Regions from separate parts of the Homo sapiens genome. Here region 1 is linked to region 2. Evidence: fine-mapped expression QTL. A gene starts in region 2. The other region holds a variant in brackets. All regions are shown on one strand. Distances are between the middles of the regions. Region 1 overlaps ZNF121 (zinc finger protein 121). Region 2 holds the start of ZNF121 (zinc finger protein 121).

Evidence for each region.
Region 1: its variant is fine-mapped to the expression of ZNF121 in whole blood (TOPMed, PIP 0.94).

Annotation. Positions count from the first base shown.
Region 1 is chr19:9,554,627-9,564,357 of GRCh38, reverse strand. ZNF121 (zinc finger protein 121) reads left to right here. Exons shown (of 4, transcript NM_001008727.5): 4 at 1-4,029. Among named protein-coding and RNA genes, the nearest start is that of ZNF426-DT, 21 kb to the right of the region's middle. The variant C/T (reference allele first, on the strand shown) is at 5,566.
Region 2 is chr19:9,578,138-9,590,342 of GRCh38, reverse strand. It overlaps ZNF121 (zinc finger protein 121), which reads left to right and starts at 5,839. Exons shown (of 4, transcript NM_001008727.5): 1 at 5,839-5,882. RefSeq lists enhancers at 262-908, 5,449-6,260, 7,075-7,887, 7,888-8,701.

The DNA.
Region 1 (9,731 bases), 25 kb after region 2:
TGTTCATGCTGGAGTACAAGTGGGTATTCACCAGCACGATGAGAGCACACTGTAGCCTTGAACTCCTGGCCTCAAGTGATCCTCCTTCCTATGCCTCCTGAGTAGCCAAGACTCCAGGCACACACCACCACACCTGCCTTAATGTTGATATTTTGACCTCCTTCCATGAATCATAAATGTTGTTAATGGCATCTAGAATGGAGAATCCTTTCTGCAAGGTCTGCAACTTAATTTATCCAGATCCCTCAGAAGAAGCATTATTAGTGGCAGCTATAGCCTTATGAAATGTATTTCTTAAATAATAAGACTTGAAAGTCAGAATTATTCCAGAATCCATGGGCTGCGGTTAGCAGACATGAAAACGCCAATCTTGTTTATACCTCCATAAGAGCTCTTGGTTAGTAGGTTCATTATCAGTGGTAATATTTTGAAAGGAATCTCTGAACAGTATGTTTTACAGTGGGCTTAAAATATTCAGTAAACCATGCTGTAAATAGATGTAAATAGATACCACAGGAAGAGTAGATGTAGCATAATTCTTAACTGGCTCTTGGATTTTTGGAATGGTAATTGAATATTAGCATTCATTTAAAGTCACCAACTGCATTGACCTCTAACAAGAAAGCCAGCCCAGGCTGGGAAAAGTGGCTTACACCTGTAATTCCAGTGCTTTGGGAGGCTGAGGTTGGAGGATCACTTGAGGTCAAGAGTTCAAGACCAGCCAGCACAACAGAGCGTGACGCTGTCTCTACAAAGTAAAGAGTCAGCCCGTCCTTTGAATCTTTGAAGTCAGATATTAGCTTACCTAGAGCTGTGAAAGTCCTAAATGGCATCTCCTGAAGTAAGGCTGTTTTGTCTCTGTTAAAACTCTAGTAGAGCTACCTCTGCCATTTATCTAGATATTCTGGAAATGCTTGCTGCAGATTCCACATCAGCAATTGCTACTTCACTTTGTACTTTTATGTTATGGAAATGACTTGTTAAACCTCACGAACTGATCTTTGCCAGCTTCCAGCATTTCTTCTGCAGCTAACTCACCTCTCAGCCTTCATAGAATTAGAGTTAGGGCCTTGCTCTGGATTAGGTTTTGGCTTAAGGGAATGTTGTGGCTGGTCTGATCTTCTATCCAGACCACTAAAACTTATTCCGTGTTAGTGGTGAGGCTGTTTTCCTTTCTTATTATGTGTGTGTTCACTGGAGTAGCACTTTTAGTTTCCTTCAAGAACTTTACATTCACAACTTGGCTAACTGGCACAAGAGGCCTAGATTTTGGCCTATCCCAGTTTTTTTTTTTTTTTTTTTTTTGAGACATGGTCTCCCTTTTGCCCAGGCTGGAGTGTAGTACAGTTATAGCCCATTGCAGCCTCAAACTTACGGGTTCCAGTGATCTTCCTGTCTCCTGAGTAGCTAAAGACTGCAGGTGTGCACCACCATGGCCAGCTAATTTTTTTTTTTTTTTTTTTTTTTTTTTAAAGAGGCAGGACTTTACTGTTTACCCGGCTGATCTTGAACTTAAAACCTCAAGTGATGCTCCCCTATCTGCCTCCCAACACTCTGGGATTACAGGTGTGAGCCACTGCACCTGGCTCTTATCTTGGCTTTTGACATGACTTTCTCACTGAGGTTAATCATTTCCAGCTTTTGATCTAAAGTGAGAAATTTGCAACTCCTTCTTTCACTTGAACAGTTAGAGGCCATTGTGGGGTAATGAATTGGCCTAATTTCAATATTGTCCCTCAGGGAATTAGGAGGCCTGGGAAGAGGAGGAGAGAGGGGAGAGTGGCCAGTTGGTGGAGCAGTGAGAACATAGCATTTGTTAAGTTTGCTGTCTTCGAAGGTTGTGGTTTGTGGTACCCCAAAACAATTAAAATAGGAACATCAAAGATCACAGAGCAGCCGGGCACGGTGGCTCACACCTGTAATCCCAGCACCTTGAGAGGCTGAGGTGAGTGAATCATGAGGTCAGGAGTTCGAGACCAGCCTGGCCACCATGGTGAAACCCCGTCTCTACTAAAAATACAAAAAATTAGCCGGGCATGGTGGCAGGCACCTATAGTCCCAGCTATTCAGGAGGCTGAGGCAGGAGAATCACTTGAATCCAGGAGGTGGAGGTTAGAGTGAGCTGAGATCACACCACTGCACTCCAGCCCAGGTGACAGAGTGAGATTCCTTCTCAAAAAAAAAAAAAAAAAAAAATCACACAGCACCACAGTAAGTATAATAATAAGGAAAATGTTTGAAATATTGTCAGAATTGTCAGGATGTGAGAGACAAAGTAAGCACATGCTGTTGGAAAAAATGGTGTTATAGATTTATTCGACATGACATTGCCACAGGACTTCTACTTGTGAAAAATATCTGTAAAGTGAGATGAAGCAAAGTGAAGTAACATGAGGTATGTCTGTAGCTGTTGCTGTAGTGGTTTCCAAATGGTGGTTTTCTTTTCCTTTTTTTTTTTTTTCTTTTTGGTCTGCATTGGGGTCTTGCTCTGTTGCCTAGGGTGTGGAGTGCGGTGGCATGATCATGCCTCACTATAGCCTTGACCTCCTGGGCTCAAGCGATCCTCCCACCTGAGTCTCCTGAGTACCTGGGACCACAGGCACATGCTAACGCACCCACTTAATTTTTTTATTCGTAGAGCCGAGGTCTCACTATGTTGCCCAGACTGGTCTCAAGCTCTTGGGCTCAAGCAGTCCTCCTGCCTCAGCCTCCCAAAGTGCCAGGATTACAGGTGTGAGCCACCACACCCAGTCCAAAAAGTGATTTTCTAATTCCATAGTTTCTTCTACATTTCTTAACTGGAATTTTGTAAGGAAGAGTTATCCTTATTCATTTATTTACCCATTTACTTGTAGGAGCATGTATCATAAATTCTTAATCTATGGGGTGTAGTTAGCTACTGTAAATTTGATGCACATATTTTTCCAGATTCAATAAGTAGGATCCCCATCAAGCTATCTTCTGAATCTTTAAAAATGTATTCTCCTTATTTCATGGGTATATAATTATTTTCTGGGCAACAGTTTGTTCATGGTACATTTGTCTCCAGCCCTAGACTCAGAAAAATGTAATTTATTTTAATGGAGAATACTATTTAGAAGCTGCAGTCTCTGTGTAGGGAGGTGTTCCTAGGTAATAGTGCCCTGGCTTTTAGGTCTTCTCTATGGAGGATATGGCAAAGACATACAAAATTATATATACGTATCCACACATTAATAACTCTATTTCTATATTAAAAACATGACCACAAGCCAACACTTTTAATTCCACTGCAGCACTGCTGGGTTATTTCTTGCTTTCCAAATTCCCTTGTCTGTAGCTATCTTTCATCACTTGCAAAAATAGCACGTGCTCAATCCTAGATTAAAATATAAGCTACTCTCAGAATTGATAACTCATACCACTCTTTTTAAAAATCAACTAACCAGAATTCAGTTTTTATTCACAGTTCTTATCTTTAGCTCAGGGCGTAATATAAAAGCACTAGGTTTAAAACTTACTTGGTCAGCAGCAATCCACTTCTAGGTACATGTCCAAAGGAACTGAAGAAAGCATCTCAATGTGTGAATGCCTACCTGTGTTCATTGCAGCATTATTCAGAAGAGCCAAGAGGTGGAAGCAAAGTAAATGTCCATTGACAGATGAATTGGTAAACAAAATGCATTATATACATACAATGCAATATCATTTAGCCTTAAAAACAAAATTCTGCCATATGCTACAACATGGACGTTATGCTAAGTGAAATAAACCAGTTCCGAAAGGACAAATACACCCATTTCCACTTATATGGGGTATCTAACGTCAAACTCAGAAGAACAAAGTACTGCGGTATTTGCCACAAGCTGGTGGAGGAGAAAATGAGTTGTTCAATGGGTATTGAGTGTCAGCCACGCAAGATGGAAAAGCTTTTTGAGATTTGTTGTATAAAAATATGCCTATAGTTAACAATACTCTTCGGTACACACAAAGTATGTGAAAGGGTAAATTTTATGTGTTTTTATCACAATAAAAATTGTAATAAAAGAAGTTACTTGGGTCAATTTTGTGCTTTTTACCCCCCTCTTCATTGTTGAATTTTTATCCATTTGATACAAAGTTCATTTCAGTAATTCCTGTTAATTTTCCATTTTGTGTCACACCGTTATCCTTGTCGATTTTTTTTTAAATTAGATATGTAAAACAGGCCAGGCATGGTGGCTTATGCCTGTAATCCCAGTACTTTGGGAAGCCGAGGTGGGCGGATCACCTGAGACTGGGAGTTGGAGACCAGCCTGGCCAACATGGTGAAACCCTGTCTCTACCGTAAATACAAAAATTAGCCAGGCGGCTGGGTGCCGTGGCTCATGCCTGTTATCCCAGCACTTTGGGAGGCCGAGGCAGGCAGATCACAAGGTCAGGAGTTCAAGACCAGCCTGGCCAATATGGTGAAACCCCATCTCTACTAAAAATACAAAAATTAGCTGGGTATGGTGGCAGGCGCCTATAGTCCCAGCTACTCAGGAGGATGAGGCAGGAGAATCACTTGAACCCGGGAGGCGGAGGTTGCAGTGAGCCGAGATCGTGCCACTGCACTCCAGCATGGGTGACAGAGTGAGACTCTGTCTCAAAAAAAATAAATAAAAGGCTGGGTGTGGTGGCTCATGCCTAAGTGGGCAGATCATGAGGTCAGGAGTTCAAGATCAGCCTGGCCAACATAGGGAAACCCCGTGTCCACTAAAAATAGAAAAATTAGCCGGCCGTGGTGGTGGGTGCCTGTAGTTCCAGTTACTGGGGAGGCTGATGCAGGAGAATTGCTTGAACCCCAGAGGCAGAGGTTGCAGTGAGTCAAGATTGCACCACTGCACTCCAGCCTAAGTGACAGAGCGTGACTGTCTCAAAGAAAAAAATTAGGCGTCATGACACCCACCTGTAATACCAGCTACTTGGGAGGCTGAGGCAGAAGAATCGCTTGAACCTTGGGGGTGGAGGTTGCAGTGAGCTGAGATTGTGCCACTGTACTCCAGCCTGTTAGAGAGTGAGACTGTCCCAAAAAAATTAATATGTGAAACAATAGTATGTTTTATTTTATACTGGTTTATCTTTTTTTTTTTTTTTGAGTCAGGATCTTGCTGTGTCACCTAGACTGGAGAGCAGTGGCATGATTGTACCTCACTGCAGCCTTATGCTCCTGAGCTCAAGCACTCCTCCCACTTTAGTGTCTCAAGAGGCTGGGAGTACAGGCATGCACCACCAGGTGCAGGCAGTTTTTAAATTTTTTACCCTTATTTTTTTTTGAGACAGGGTGTTGCTCTGTCACCCAGGTTGGAGTGCAGTGGTGCAGTCATAGCTCCCTGCAGCCTCACACTTCTGAGATCAAGCAGTCCTTCTCCCTCAGCCTCCTGAGTAGGTAGGACTACCAGCGTGCACCACCAGGACTGGCTAATTTTAAATTTTTGTAGAGACAGGATGTGGCAATGTTGCCCAGGCTGGCCTCAAACTCCTGGTCTTAAGGGATCCTCCCATCCTGGCCTCCTAAAGTGCTGGTGTAACAGGCATTAGCCACAACGCCCACCTAATTGCATA[C/T]TTTAAACATTAGAACTAAACATAAACGTTTTTCTTGCCTTATCCTTTCCAGTCTGTTCTAATCTCACTGTCCTTTACAACCTGTTCCTATCCCATCAGCTATAGGTAATGAACCTTTTTCTCTGAATAATCCTGTGTTTTCTTCTAGCAAAAATGAACATATATATATTTGTTATTGCCCATTTAAAAAAAGATTTCAGGCAGGTACGGTGGCTCACGCCTCTAATCCCAGCACTTTGGGAGGCTGAGGCGGGTAGATCACAAGGTCAGGAGATCGAGACCATCCTGGGTAACACGATGAAACCCCCTGTCTACTAAAACTACAAAAAATTTGCCAGGCGTGGTGGTGGGCGCCTGTAGTCCCAGCTACTCGGGAGGCTGAGGCAGGAGAATGGCATGAACCCGGGAGGCAGAGCTTGCAGTGAGCCGAGATGGCGCCACTGCACTCCAGCCTGGGCAACAGAGTGAGACTCCGTCTCCAAAAAAAAAAAGTTTCATACTATACTCTTGCAGTTTCTATTTTTGCCTAACAGTGTATCTTGATAACCACTCCATATAAATTCATAGATATATCTTCCTTTTTCACCTTCATTCTGTAGCTGCATAATACTCCTTTTGTGGATGTACCATGTAATATTCAGCTGCTCTACTACATGTCATCAATTAGAGAATTCAAATTTGCAATTACTAACAGGGATGCAGTTAGTATTCTTGAGCATGTGTATTTTTGTATATTTAGGCATTTACATTCAGGACAAATTCCTAGAATTAGGATTGCTGGATTAAATAGGTAGTATATTAGACATTGACAAATTCTCTGTGCTAGGCAGCCTCCAAATTGGCCTCCAGTTTCTGCTTCCTGGTATTTGAGGACTACCCTTGTGTAATCCTCTCATACTGTACTATGATTGATATGTGTAACCACCAGAATATGGCAGAAGTTCTGGTAAGCCAGTTCTGAAATTAGGTTATGAAAGCCCACACATAACTGGAGCCCCAGTATTAAAAACAATTTTAAAAAAGAGCAACTCATGCTTCCTGATGTCAAAAGTTACTATAAAACTACAGAAATCAGGCTGGGCATGGTGGCTCCTGCCTGTAATCCCAGCACTTTGGGAGGCCGAGGAGGGCAGATCAAAAAAAATGTGTTCATAAAAAAATGAACACAATTTTTTTTAAGTTCACATGACAATTCTTTTATAAATTAATTGGTTTTAAAGTTGTCGATAAAATTAGATATGTCTTCAAAATTGTCAGCATATATTTTTGTCTGGGTTTACTGGTCTGACAGTGTTGTGTCTGTCTCTATTAGATACTTTAAGTTCATGAAGCTAAACCCAATCTAAAACAATGATCTTTGTGCAATTCTTTTATAAGTGAGATTTACTTAATATTTTTGATTTAATAACAATAGCTATATCTTCTGAGTTATTGACAGAATAACCATGTATTTAGTGTAGGGTTTGAACTTTGGTAAACAATATTAACAGGATATAAAATTGGTTAATAAAAAATAATTTAAAACAATGACTAGCTGTGTCAAATCTTAATAAGTAATCTAGGTGTAATTAGAAATTAAAGGTAACTGTAAATGGAATAAATGTTTATAAATAAACTTTTCATGTAATTTAAAATCTTAAATAATATTAATTATCTGGGTCATATCCAAATAAGATATAAGGCAAACAAATTACTGAAAAAATATATATTCATTCTTGGCTTCTTAAAATTTCTTTCTTTTTTTTTTGAGACGGAGTTTCACTCATCACCCAGCTGGAGTGCAATGGTGTAATCTCAGCTAATTGCACCCTCTGCCTCCCAGGTTCAAGCAATTCTGCCTCAGCCTCCCGAGTAGCTGGGTTTACAGGTGCCCACAACCATGACAGGCTAATTTTTGTATTATTAGTAGAGATGGGGTTTCACCATGTTGGCCAGGCTGGTCTTGAATTGCTGACCTCAGGTGATTCACCTGCCTTCACCTCTCAAAGTGCTGGGATTACAGGCATGAGCCACCGTGCCCAGCTGGCTTCTTAAAATTTCTAAAAAGAGTAGATATATTTTGGTCTATTACTCCAAATACAAATTTAGGAAAAAGTAATTTTTGTGTGAGAATCTTATGTGGTAAATTTTTGTCCTAAGGTAAAATGATTGGTTGTACCAATATAAAAGGAGAAAACTGTAAGTCTAAGACTGAAGGTTTAAGAAAATGATTAAACGTCTAAACAATTTGAATAGGATTTATAAAAGATAAGCCTTACCGACAGTTTATTGTATGATTGTGTTGGCTAGGATTGAAAAGAAATTGTACATAGGATATTTTTTTCCTAAAAATTAAACAGTGGTGTTGGGTGCACTGATACAGGACCAGAATCTGGTCCTCTATATTGAAAACAAGAAGGTGTGTTTTTTTTTGACATATTTATCTGCACTTAATAAATTTGCAAGACGTTTTGTTTGTTCGTTCTAAAATCTGTTAGTAGCCATCTTCTAAACTCTAGTTTCTATTTCGGCCACATTTTTTCCTGAGATCGATTTAATTTCTGTAGTTTTCAGGTTTTAAATGCTGTCCTCATCATTTAAAACAGTAATTTTATTTATTGAGGTGGAATTTCATACAGTTAAAAAAATTTGTAGAGATGATGATGTGGTTTGGATATGTGTCCCCACCCAAATCTCATGTTCAGCTGTAATTCCCAATGTTACAGGTTGTTCCTGGTGGGAGGTGACTTGATCATGGCGGGGTGGATTTCTCATGAGTGATTTAGCACTACCTGCCTCGGTACTGTCCTCGTGATAGATAGTGAGTGAGTTCTTGTCACTCGATTTGGTCGTTTAAAGGTGAGTAGCACCTCCCCCTCTCTCCTGCTCCTGCTTCGGCCATGTGACATGCCTGGTCCTCTGCATTCTGCTATGATTGTAAGTTTCCTGAGGCCTCCCCAGAAGCCAAGCAGATGCCAGCAACATACATCCTGTCCAGCCTGCAGAACTGTGAGCCAATTAAACCTTTTTTCTTTATAAATTACCCACTGTTAGTTATTTCTTTATAACAATGCGAGAACAGACTAATAAAGATGGCATCTAGCTATGTTGCCCAGGCTGGTCTCAAACTCCTGGCCTTAAGTTACTCTCCTGCCTCATCCTTCCAAAGTGCTGAGATTACAGGAACGAGCCACCAAAACCAAAACCAGCCAATTTGTTGAGGTAGAGTTTTGTTTTTTCAGATTTCTCATTCATGTCTCAGAGGCTCAACTTTACTTGCATCTCAGTGTATGTCATTTGCAGGTCATACATCATTGCCTTCTTTTTTTCACATTGAGAAGGTCTGGGATGATGACTGTCTCCAACTTTTTTGTCTGCTCCTGTAAGTTTTTTCTTTGGTTCTAAATCGGCTATTATGGCCTGACACTGAAATATTTATCATGAAGGCCTAGAAAAGCAATGTATTTGCTCTGTATAACTTGATTCTGTACTCTCGGCTTTTCTTGATGTACCTAAATTTTTACACTCATAGCCTTGGACATATTCCTAACTAAATCCAAGCACACTTTTCATCACGTTCAACTTCCAGGTTATTTTTATTTTTATTTTATTTTTTGAGATGGATTCTTGCTCTGTCACCCAGGCTGGAGTTCAGTGGCGCAATCTCAGCTCTCTGCAACCTCTGTCTCCTGGGTTCAAGTGATTCTCTGCCTCAGCCTCCTTGGTAGCTGGGTCTACAGGTGTGTGCCACCACCCCTGGCTAATTTTTGTGTTTTTTAGTAGAGAAAGAGTTTCACCATGTTGGCCAGGCTGGTCTCGAACTCCTGACCCAAGTGATCCACCCGCCTCGGCTTCCCAAGTGCTGGGATTACAGGTGTGAGCCACCATGCCTGGCCAACTTCCAGGTTATCTAAATGCACTTTGCATAAGGAGAAATAATCACACTGTAGAAGGTTTTTCTTTACCTTTTTGGTAGCTGGTCTAAGAAAGGTTTTACAAGAAATTATCGAGATAATTTCCTGTATTGCCTTTATTAAGTTTTTTATCACTTAAAAAAAAAAACCTGGTTGGTTGGGCATGGTGTTTCATGCCTGAATCCCAGCACTTTGAGAGGCTGAGGTGGGAGGATCACTTGAGTTCAGGAGTTCGATACCAGCCTGGGCAACATGATGAAAGCCCATCTCTTA
Region 2 (12,205 bases):
GATTTGTCAAGTCAAAGGCAGCTCACTACTTCAGAAAAGCACCTCTGTCCCTCCTGGCTCTCCTCAGACTGGGCATTAGTGAATTAGGACCATTTAATCTGGGAGATTTCCATAAAGATCCCAGTGGAAACCAGGAGTCTTGACCCCAACCCCCGATGTAGAGCTTTTATGCCGTAGTTGGTCCAACGTTCTGTGGACCACCAAAGAGCAAGGATGGACTGCCCTAACCAGTTTTTGGAATTTCCTAAAACCATACATTCATTTACTAAAGGGACAGCCCCCCCCAACTGTCAGCCAAACCAGTGCAACCCTATACAGGTTAGTATTTTGAGCCCCAAAGTTCTCCTTTTCTAAGCCAGTTCCTTTCTTTAAGCCGGTTTTATGGTATAGGGGCTGAGGTTTCAAGGACAGACCCTACTGGATTCTTTGAAATGCGTTTCTTTGATCTCCCGCTGCCTGCACCTGCCTCTTAGCCTTTTTCCAAAACCTCTCACAACGGAACCATTGTTCCTCCTCCATCTAAGGACAAGGCCATGATAGCGATGGTAGAAGTTAAAGACTTAAACTTTGGCAATTGAGACAGGATACCAAGATGTAAATACCTGGTTGGAATGGATCAAATATTCCATCCGCATGTTAAACAAAAGCAATTGTTATGCTAGTGCGCACAGCAGGCCAGAGGCCCAGATTGTCCCCTTTCCACTAGGGTGGTTCTCCAATAGACCGGGCATGGGCTGCATGGTAACTCTTTTCCAGGATTCTACAGCCTAGGGTAAAGAGTCATGCCGACTCTCTGTCTCTGCTATATCCTGAAGTTCAACAACATGCTGGTCAGCCCCCGAGGGCCATCCAGCTTCCATCTCCCAACATTAAGTTCACTTCGTGTCTCTCACAACAGAGAGGAAACTTAGTGTTCCTTGGAGACCTGAAGGGATGCAGTGAGCTTAAGAACTTTCAAGAGCTTACCAATCAGTCAGCCCTTGCTCATCCCTGAGCGGATGTGTGGTGGTATTGTGGTGGACCTTTACTGGACACTCTGCTGAATAACTGGAGTGGCACTTGTGCTTTAGTCCAATTGGCTATCCCTTTCACCCTGGCATTTCAGCAACCAGAGGGAGGAAAGATAAGACTTCGTAAAGCAAGACAAGCCCGTTATAGGTCTTTCAACTCTCACGGCTATTTAGATGCAATTGGAGTCCCACGGGGAATACCAGATCAATTTAAAGCCCAAAATCCAATAGCTGCAGGATTTAAGTCAATATTTTGGTAGGCGACAGTTAATAAAAATGTAGATTGGGTGGGCCGGGCGCGATGGCTCATGCCTGTAATCCCAGCACTTTGGGAGGCCGAGGCGGGCGGATCACAAGGTCAGGAGATTGAGACCATCCTGGGTAACGCGGTGAAACCCTGTCTCTACTAAAAATACAAAAAATTCACCGGGCATGGTGGCAGGTGCCTGTAGTCCCAACTACTCAGGAGGCTGAGGTAGGAGAATGGCATGAACCCAGGAGGCGGAGCTTGCAGTGAGCCAAGATCGCACCACTGCATTCCAGCCTGGGTGACAGAGTGAGACTCCATCTCAAAAAAAAAAAAATGTAGATTGGGTAAACTACATCTATTACAACCAACAGCGATTTATTAACTACACTAGAGATGCTGTTAAAGGAATAGCTGAGCAATTGGGGGCTACTAACCTGATGGCTTGGGAAAATAGGATAGCTTTAGACATGGTATTAGCAGAAAGAGGAGGAGTTTGCATCATTATTAAAACTCATTGTTGCAACTTCATCCCAAACAACACGGCCCCTAATGGAAGTATAAGAAAGGCATTGCAAGGCCTGACTCCTCTATCCAATGAGTTGGCCAGCAATTCAGGGGTAAATTACCCATTTACAGAATGGCTAGAAAAGTGGTTCGGTAAATGGAAAGGAATAATAGCCTCAATTCTCACCTCCCTTGTAGCCGTAATGGGTGTACTTATCCTTGTCAGGTGCCGTGTCATACCATGCATCTGTAGGTTGGTGCAGAGGCTCATAGAAATGGCACTTACTAAAACCTCCTTTAACTATCCTCCACCTTATCCAGAGAAGCTCCTTCTTTTGGAAAATCAAGCAGAACAACTAAGTCAAGACATGTTAAATAAGTTTGAAGAGAAAGCCATAAAAAAAATGCAAGAGGAGGAAGTTGTTGAAAATGAATTATAAATTTCTCTTCAAAGAATTAATATGTCAGTATGCTCAATTCTTTGCCTTCTACTTTTAAACTTAACTTCCTCATAAAGCACCCTTTTCCCAAACCGCTCACTCCATCACTCTCTTTAAATTAGTCAATCGGAATTAGTTTAGCCTGTGAGGTCCAACCCTAGCCAGTAGGGGAACGACAGAGCAGTAGGGACCACGTGTGTCAGGAATAAGAACCCCTTTCCCTCCCTTGTCCAGGTGTGTGCCCACCATTGCTCCATCTGTGAGAGTGCACCCTTCTATAGAAGTATCTTGCCTTGCTGAGAATTAAAAAGAAAATTTTATATTCAAGTGTTATTTCTTTTGTGGCACCAAAACTTTATATGTGACAGACTGGAAGTTCAAGAGCAGCCTGGGCAACATAGAGAGATCTCTTCTCTACCCAAAATATTTTTAAAAATTAGCTGGATGTGGTGGTGTACATATGTATTCCCTGGTACTTGGGCAGGAGGATTACTTGAGCTCACAAAGTAAAGGCTGCACTGAGCAATGATAACGCTACTACACTCCAGCCTGTGTGACAGAGTGAAACCCTGTCAAAAAGAAAAAAAAAAAGTAGAATGTGATTTTAAACATCAGAACTAAACAGAATGATATGCTCAGAGAGGTTTCCCTATCCCTATCCTCTCCATTTTGTTCTTATCCCACCATTCTGTTCAAGCCCTTCCCATCTATCCCCGATAGATTCTGAATCTTATTATTTTCAGGATAGTCCTATCAGTGTTTCCCTGTACTCAGAATGAACAGATAATTACATATTTTATTTTTATTTTTTTGAGACTGAGTCTCACTCTATCGCCCAGGCTGGAGTGCAATGGCGCGATCTTGGCTCAATACAACCGCCGCTTCCCGGGTATAAGCAATTCTCCTGCCTCATCCTCCCGAGTAGCTGGGATTACAGGCGCCCGCCACCATGCCCGGCTAATTTTTGTATTTTTAGTAGAGGCGGAGTTTCACCATGTTGGCCAGACTTGTCCTTCAGAACTTTTTAACTGGAAGATATGCTGCCAGGCTGCTGAGCATCGTCACTTAGTCATATAAGCCCCCTCTTTGATTCCCCTTCTCCTCTGGGAGTCTTTCTTCCTTTCCACCCTTTCTGAGCAGCGACCCACAGGTAGAAGCCTGTGGATATTCTCTTGCTGTTTGCTACCTCCCGCCACTCCTTACCTGTCAAAGCACATCCCAAATGAAGCTTGTGTGCTACTGCCGCCTTGTGGTCACGTCTTTTTCCTTACTCAGCCAAGAAATCACTTACACCCTGAATGCGTATATGGTTTTATTTTTCACATTTAGATCCCTAGTCCATTTAGAGTTTATTCTTGTATATGCTGTGAAGTATGGATTTAATTTCATCTTTTCTCTGATGGCTACCCAGCTGTCTTAGACTTTCCATTACAAATGGCTTTTTTTGCCTCATTGATCTGAAATACCTTTTTTTTTTTTTTTTGAGATGGATTTTCACTCTTGTTGCCCAGGCTGGAGTCCAGTGGCGCGATCTCGGCTCACTGCAACCTCTGCCTTCTGGGTTTCAGCGATTCTCCTGCCTCAGCCTCCCGAATAGCTGGGATTACAGAAAGCCCACCACCATGCTTGGCTAATTTTATTTTTGTATTTTTATTAGAGACAGGGTTTCACCATGTTGGACAGGCTGGTTTCGAACTCCTGACTTCAGGTGATCCTCCCGCCTCAGCCTCCCAAATTGCTAGGATTACAGGTATGAGCCACCGCGCCTGGCAAAATACCACATTTATGAACCAAATTCCTACATGTTCTTGGGTCTGTTTTTAGATATTTTATTAGTCTGTTTCTGCTTCATGTGCTAGTACCACATAGTTTTAATTATAGAGGCTTTATAGTATGTCTTATTTATTTTTATTTTAATATAATTTAATTATTTGCCTTGTGTGAAAACTGTTAATAGTATGTTTTAACATCTGCTGCTCATCATTGCTTTTGTTTTTGTTTTCTTGGTTATTATCAGATATTTATTCTTCCACATAAACTTTAGTATCAACGTACCTAACTCCAGAAAAAACTTTTAATATTTTTACTGGGATTATGTTACATTTCTGAATAAACCTGGGGAGAATGTCTGGTGTCAGTGCTATTTTACAATGTAGGAAATGTGGTCCTGGCCCATGTGGGAAGATCAGAAAAATAACAATAGAAATACATGTTTTTGGCCAGGCGTGGTGGCTCACATCTGTAATCCCAGCACTTTGGAAAGGTGAGGCAGGCGGATCATGAGGTCAGGAGTTCGAGACCAACTGGGCCAATATGGTGAAACCCTGTCTTTACTAAAAATACAAAAATTAGCCGGGCATGGCGGCGCCTGCCTGTAATCTCTGCTACTCAGGAGGCTGAGAGAGAAGAATCGCTTGAACCCGGGAGGCAGAGGTTGCAGTGAGCAAGATCGTGCCACTGCACTCCAGCCTGGGCAACAGAGCTAGACTCCATCTCAAAACAAAAACAAAAACATATTTAAAATTTTTTTTAAACAGAGACGGGGTCTTGCTGTATTGCCCAGGCTGGTCTCAAACTCCTGGCCTCAAACGATCCCTTGGCCTCCCAAATTGCTGGGATTATAGGCATAAGCCACCATACCCAGCCAGAAATACATACTTGATGAAGACAAAAAAAAATCAAGATTTACAGAAAATATTATTATATTGAAAACGTGGCCGGGTGCGGTGGCTCATGTCTATAATTCCAGCACTTTGGGAAGCTGAGGGAGACAGATCATTGGAGGTCAGGAGTTCGAGATCAGTCTGGCCATCATGGTGAAACTCTTCTCTACTAAAAGTACAAAAATTAGCTGGGCGTGGAGGCAGACATCTGTAATCCCAGCTACTCGGGAGGTTGAGGCAGGAGAATCACTTGAACCCGGGGGGCAGAGGTTACAGTGAGCCGAGGTCATGCCACTGCACTCCAGCCTGGGCAACAGAGTGAGATCTGTCTCAAAAAAAAATAAAAAATGAAAAAGAAAAACGAAAAAAGAAAACGCAATGGAACCAGCAGGTTCTAAAAAATAAAGAATGAAGAAATAAAGGCCTACAGAAAGCCTGACTGAATAGAAGAGATAGACCATGCCATTCACTGGCAGCTTTATCCATATGGAAGAATCATGGAAAGGCTCTAGGAACATGAGATGTATACAAACAAGCTTTATATATATGTATACACACATATATATTTTAATAAAGGATGTTGCTATTTTGCCCACGCTGGTCTTGAACTCTTGGACTCAAGCTATCCACCTGCCTTAGCCTCCCAAAGTGTTGGACTTACAGGCCTTAGCCACTGTGCCCACCTGGGAAAAGCTCTGCAGGAGCATCCCCTGGGGTGCGTCCCATCCCCCACGCCCGCCCTTCCAGCAGGTCCGGCCACCTGAACCGCCGGCTAGCCGGGTCCCACCTCTAAACCGCCCCCAAGTAAGGGCCTGTCCGCGCCCACCCGGGAAGAAACTACAATTTCTGTGTTTGACTGGGTCCTATGTGGCTGAAACTCGAACCCAGGAGCCCCGCCCGGCCCGAGGCTCGGAGCGGAAGTGACGTCAGCGCACAATCGCCATCTTTTCCGGCGCTGGCTCCGCATGGTCAGTGCCATTTCGCCTTTATCGTGGTGGAGTCCACCCTGGCTGTGGTGAGTTCCGCCTGCTTGGGGATCCCGGAGATAGCGGGGGGCGGCAAAGGAACGATTGGGTGCTGTCGCCCAGGAGCCTCTCCGATCCGCCTCGTTTCACTCTCTTCTCCAGGGGCTGTCGGTCCTCCTTGCGCGGCCAGTGGCTAGAGGCCGCAGGCTCAGTGGGTCCCAGTCAGGAGCCAGGTCGGGAAGTGTGTTTGTCCCGACTCCGCGCGTTTTCTGGAGTGGTTTCATCCGCTGTGCTCCCTTCTTCAAAAGCTTGGAAAGCAACCTTTGTGAGTTTCTTTCTTTCTGAAAGTAAAAGGATTTCTGCCGTTCCAGTCAGGTTGGCTCCGGCCCCGCATTTCCGCGCCTCAGGAACCTGGCGTTTCCGGCATGTTCCTGGTGAACACCTGCAGAAAATTGGTTTCAAGAGGGCTCTGACTTCCATTTCTTTGCTTAAAAATGTCTCGTCTGAGAATCTGGCATTGATGTCCTATTCTTATTTTTGACACATTACTTTCTGATGGAAAAAAAATAGTCGTTTAGGGTGTGCCTATATCTGCATGTAAATATGAACACGTGTAGACTGTGAGCCTTTAGTTTCTTATTTTATTTTCTTGGACTTAATGTTTTTTGTTGTTACCAGCTACAAGCCTTTCTACAAAAGAAAGGCAGGCTGGGCGCGCTGGCTCACGCCTGTAGTCCCAGCCATTTGGGAGGTCGAGGCGGGCAGATCACCTGAGGTCAGGAGTTCGAGACCAGCCTGGCCAACATGGTGAAACCCTGTCTCTACTAAAAATACAAAAAATTAGCCAGGCGCGATGGCGGGCGCCTGTAGTCCCAGCTACTCGGGAGGCTGAGGCAGGAGAATGGCGTGAACCCGGGAGGCGGAGCTTGCAGTGAGCCGAGATCGCGCCACTGCACTCCAGCCTGGGCAAAAGAGGGAGACTCCGTCTCACACACACAAAAAAAAAAAAAAAAAAAAAAAAGCCAGGCTTGGTGGCAGTCCCCTGTAATCCTAGCTACTTGGGAGGCTGAGGCAGGAGGATTGCTTGAACCTGAGAGGCCGAGGTTGCAGTGAGCCGAGATCTGCCACTGCACTCCAGCCTGGGCGATGAGAGCGAAACTCCGTCTCAAAAAAGAAAGAAAGGCAATAATACACAGCTGTTGTCTTTATCTGAAGTTCCTAGGTCTGTACCCCCCCACAGAGCTTCAAAACGGGCCCACAGGAAGAAAGGATGGAGGCTTTTGTTTGTTTTTTTCAGACGGAGTCTTGCTCTGTCGCCCAGGCTGGAGTGCAGTGGCGCGATCTCAGCTCACTGCAACCTCCACCTCCTGGGTTCAAGTGATTCTCCTGCCTCAGCCTCCGAGTAGCAGGGACAACAGGCATGGGGACCATGCCCAGCTAATTTTTTTTTTTTGTATTTTTAGTGGAGACAGGGTTTCACCATGCTCGCCAGGCTGGTCTCGAACTCCTGACCTTGTAATCCGCCTGACGGCCTCCCAAAGAGCTGGGATTACAGGCGTGAGCCTCCGCTCCTGGCCAGGATGGAGGCTTTATAATCAGAATATTATTCTAGTATTAGTGTAATAAAGTAGTATCTATTGAATTTATTAACAGCATGTTTAGACTAAGTGTAGTTTTGACATTTTTTTCTGAAAAATTTGATCCTAGGGAAAACTTGAACATCTAACACACCCAGTCTAGTAGTTTTTTTTTTTTTTTTTTTGAGACAGAGTCTCGCTCTGCTACCCGGGTCGGGGTGCAGAGGTGCGATCTCGGCTCACTGCAACCTCTGCCTCCCAGGTTCAAGTAATTCTCCTGCCTCCCTAGCATTAGGTGCGTCCATGTGAAGAGACCACCAAACAGGCTTTGTATGAGCAATAAAGCTTTTAATCACCTGGGTGCAGGCAGACTGAGTTCAGAAAAGGAGTCAGCAAAGGGAGATAGGGGTCGGGCAGTTTTATAGGATTTGGGTAGATAGTGGAAAATTACAGTTAAAGGAGGTTGTTCTCTTGCGGGCAGGGGCGGGGATCACAAGGTGCTCAGTGGGGAGCTCCTGAGATTCATTGTCCAGGAGAAGGAATGTCACAAGGTCAATTGATCAGTTAGGTTGGGGCAGGAACAAATCACAATGGTGGAATGTCATCAGTTAAGGCAGGAACTAGCTATTTTCGCTTCTTCTTGTTGTTCTTCAGTTGCTTCAGGCCATCTGGATGTATACGTGCAGGTCACAGGGAGTCTGATGGCTTGGCTTCGGCTCAGAGGCCTGACACCTAGTAGCTGGGACACAGGCACATGCCGCCATGCCCAGCTAATTTTTTTTTGTATTTTAGTAGAGACAAGGTTTCACCATGTTGGCCAGGCTGGTCTCGAAATCCTGAGCTCAGGCAGTTCACCTGCTTCGGCCTCCCAAAATGCTGGGATTACAGGTGTGAGCCACTGTGCCTGAACACTTACTTTTTGAGCATTGTGCTTGTTTTCTTTCACCTCAGGTAAATACATTTTATGGTGAACAATTTGAGTGTAAATTGAGCATAATTGCACACGTGATACTTGACCTTTAAATACTTGGTAATGCATCGCCTAAAAAAATAGCACTGTCATTCTGAAACCACAATACTAGTATTTCACTTAAATAAAAAATAATAATGTCATCTAATGTCTGCTTTTTATAATAACTAAAATTCTCCGCATTGATTCAACGTATGCTCTTGGATGTTTTTGGGTTTAAGATCCATTCAAGATTTTTACATTGCAATTGTTAATGTTTTCAGTGTCTTTTTACCTAGAACAGTTATTATTGTATATTATATTGACTTTTGGAGAGTCACACTGTGGGATATGAGGATATGATGAGGTTTCTCTTCAAATAATCTCATCAATCTTTTATTCTCTAATTCATAGTACCCCCCCTTTTTCTCCTTTTTTCTCCTTTTTGCCTTTGTTAGATGCCCAGGCATGCCACAGTACAAAGCGTTATCAGTACCAGCTCACATACCTTTCCTTACTTAGAAAGAGGACTTTCTAGCTCACTACAGACATCCCTTCCCCTTCCTCTCCACTTTTCTTCTACGTGCCCACCCTATCTAAAAAAAATCAGGTGTTTCACCAACCGGGATTAGTTTAGATTGTACGACCTGACCCCGGCCAATAGGGAAAGGGTACAGGGGCAGGACTTGCATCAGGAGTAAAGGCTCTCATGCCCCTTTGTTCAGGTGTGCTCTCATGGCAACTGGTCAAGGAGGCACCCCTCTGCACAGAAGTAAAATTGCTTTGCTAAGAATCCTTTGTTCGAGTGTTCAATTTCCTTAGGATTTTGAGCGTTATTCCTAACACTCATTCTCTTAGAAAGTCATACAATCAGATATTTCTGATTGGATTCTCATGGTGTGTGTAAATATTCCTTTATTTCATGCGATTTCCTACAAACTCGGGGTTTTTGGCCTAAAGGAGAAGCTGACAACCTTTGTTTGATAAGGGCTGACAGTATGTACTTCGTGCTTTGGGGACCAGAAAGTCTCAAATTACTCAGATCTGCCTTAGTTACTTCATGTCCCATGATTAGTTGTTCATTCTCTATCGCATGGTAGTGGCAAACCACAACCTGTTTCTCAAAAGAGAAACAGTTAATCTGCACAAGAGGGCATGGATTGACTATGGAATACCAGAGGCCTCTACTCTACATCTTCTGTTGGTGTATGCCAGAGGCTTCCAATAAATAGGATGCCATTTAACATGGACACGTTGAGTATCATTGGGTCTGCTGGATCAGGTGGACCAAGTGCTTGGGAAGCCTGCAGTGCAGCCTGAAATTGCTCTTGTCTACAGTTGAAACTAGAATCCTTACAGGCAACTGTGTGGGGCGTTAAAGCACATACAAATGTATATGTTGCCTCCAAAATTCAAGAGGTTTACGGGTGGTAGCTCTATTGACAGTTCTATTTTTAGTTTTTTGAGAAACCCCCATACTGAGTTTTTTTTTTTTTCTTTTTTGAGTCTTGCTGGATCACCCAGGCTGGAGGGCAATGGCATAATCATGGCTCATTGCTCGTTTTTAGTGGTAGGTGGTATTAGGTGAAGTAACTTGGAGGGACATCTTGCAGGGAATGTCTTTTTGTAGGGAATGTCTTTACATGATCCAGACAAGGGAATATCTATCTTTTTTTTTTTCTTTTTTTCTTTTTGAGACTAGTTTTTCTCTGTCACCCAGGCTGGAGTGCAGTGGCACAAACTGGGCTTACTGCAAACTCTGCCTCCCGAGTTCACGCCATTCTCCTGCCTCAGCCTCCTGAGTAGCTGGGACTACAGGTGCCCGCCAACACGCCCGGCTAATTTTTTGTATTTTTAGTATTGACGAGGTTTCACCGTGTTAGCCAGGATGGTCTCAATCTCCTGACGTCGTGATCCGCCCGTCTCAGCCTCCCAAAGTGCTGGGATAACAGGTGTGAGCCACCCGCGCCTGGCTGACAAGGGAATATCTTTACCCACAGACATGGTGGCCCCAGAATCTCCCACCCTCTATTTGAAAATTCAAAAAAAGTTTTTTGATTCATAATAGACGTACATGTTTTCTGAGTACATGTGATAATTTGATGCATTTATATTATCAAATCAGGGTAAGTAGAATATCTGTCACCTTAAATATTTATCCTTTCTTTATTGCAGGAAAATCAAGTTATTCTCTTAGCTGTTTTGAAATGTACAATAGATGAGTGTTAAATGTAGTCACCCTACTGATCTATTGAACACTAGTTCTTATTTCTTCTAACTGTGTATTTTACCCATGAATCAACCTCTCTTTTTTTTCTAGAGACGGAGTCTCACTGTTGCCCAGGCTGGAATGCAGTGGCATGATCTCGGCTCACTGTAACCTCCACCTCCTGGGTTCAAGTGATTCTCCTGCCTGGGACTACAGGCGCACGCCACAATTCCCAGCTAATTTTTGTATTTTCAGTAGAGATGGAGTTTCGCCATGTTGGCCAGGCTGGTCTCGAACTCCTGACCTCAAGTGATTCACCTGCCTTGGGCTCCTAAAGAGCTGGGATTACAGGCATGAGCCACTGTGACTGACAGGTTTTATGTGTGCATATGTGTGCAGACAGGTCTTCCTGTGTTGTCCAGGCTGGCTCGAACTTCTGGGCTCAAGTGATCCTCCCACCACAGCCTCAAGTTTTGGGATTACAGGCATGAGCCACTACACCTGAGTATTGTTCTCTATAGTGGCTGTACTAATTTACATTCCCATCAACTGCATACAAGGATTATCTTTTCACCACATCCTCATCAGTATTTGTTATTCCCTGTCTATAAAAGCCACCCTATGAGGTGAGATGACATCTCATTGTGGTAATGTGTGATTTGTATTTCTTTGATGTTTAGCCATGTTGAGCATTTTTTCCGTATACCTGTTGGCCATTTGTATGTCGTTTTTTGAGAAACAAGTATTCTGACCTTTGGCCAATTTTTTGATCGGATTTTTTTTTTTTTTTTTTTTGCTATCAAGTTGAGTTCCTTATATATTTTGATTACTAATCTTTGTCAGGTGGATAGTTTGTAAATATTTTTTTCCCATACTCTAGATTGTCTCTTCAGTTTGTTGATTGTTTTGCTGTGGAGAAGTTTTTAGTTTGATGTAATCTCATATGTTTATTTTTGCTCCTGTTGCCTGTGCTGTTGAGGTCTTACCCAAGAAATCTTTACCCAGACCAATGTCCTGGATTGTTTCCCCAGTTTCTTCCTCTAGTAGCTTTATAGTTTCAGGTGTTAGATGTCTTTAATCTGTTTTGATTTTGTTTATGCTGAGAGATGGCATCTAGTTCATTCTGCATATCGTTATTCAGTTTTCCCAGCAGCACTTATTGAAGACTGCTATTTTCCCATTGTATGCTTTTGGTGCCTTTGTTGAAAATGAACTGTCTATAAATGTGTAGATTTATATTTAGGTTCTCTGTTCTCTTCCATAGATCTATGTGTTTGTTTTTATGTCAGTACCATGCTGATTTGGCTATGGTAGCTTTGTAGAATATTTTGATATCAGGCAGTTTGATGCTTCCAGCTTTTTCTTTCCTTCTTTTTTTTTTTGAGACTAAGTCTCGCTCTGTCTCCCAGGCTGGAGTGCAGTGGTGCGACCTCGGCTCACTGCAACCTCTGTCTCCCAGGTTCAAGGAATTCTCCTGCCTCAGCCTCCCTAGTAGCTGGGACTACAGGCACGCACCACCATGTCTGGCTAATTTTTTGAGGTGGAGTCTCGTTCTGTCACTCAGGCTGGAATGCAGTGGTGTGATCTGGGCTCACTGCAAGTTCCGGCTCACTGCAAGTTCCACCTCTTGGGTTCACA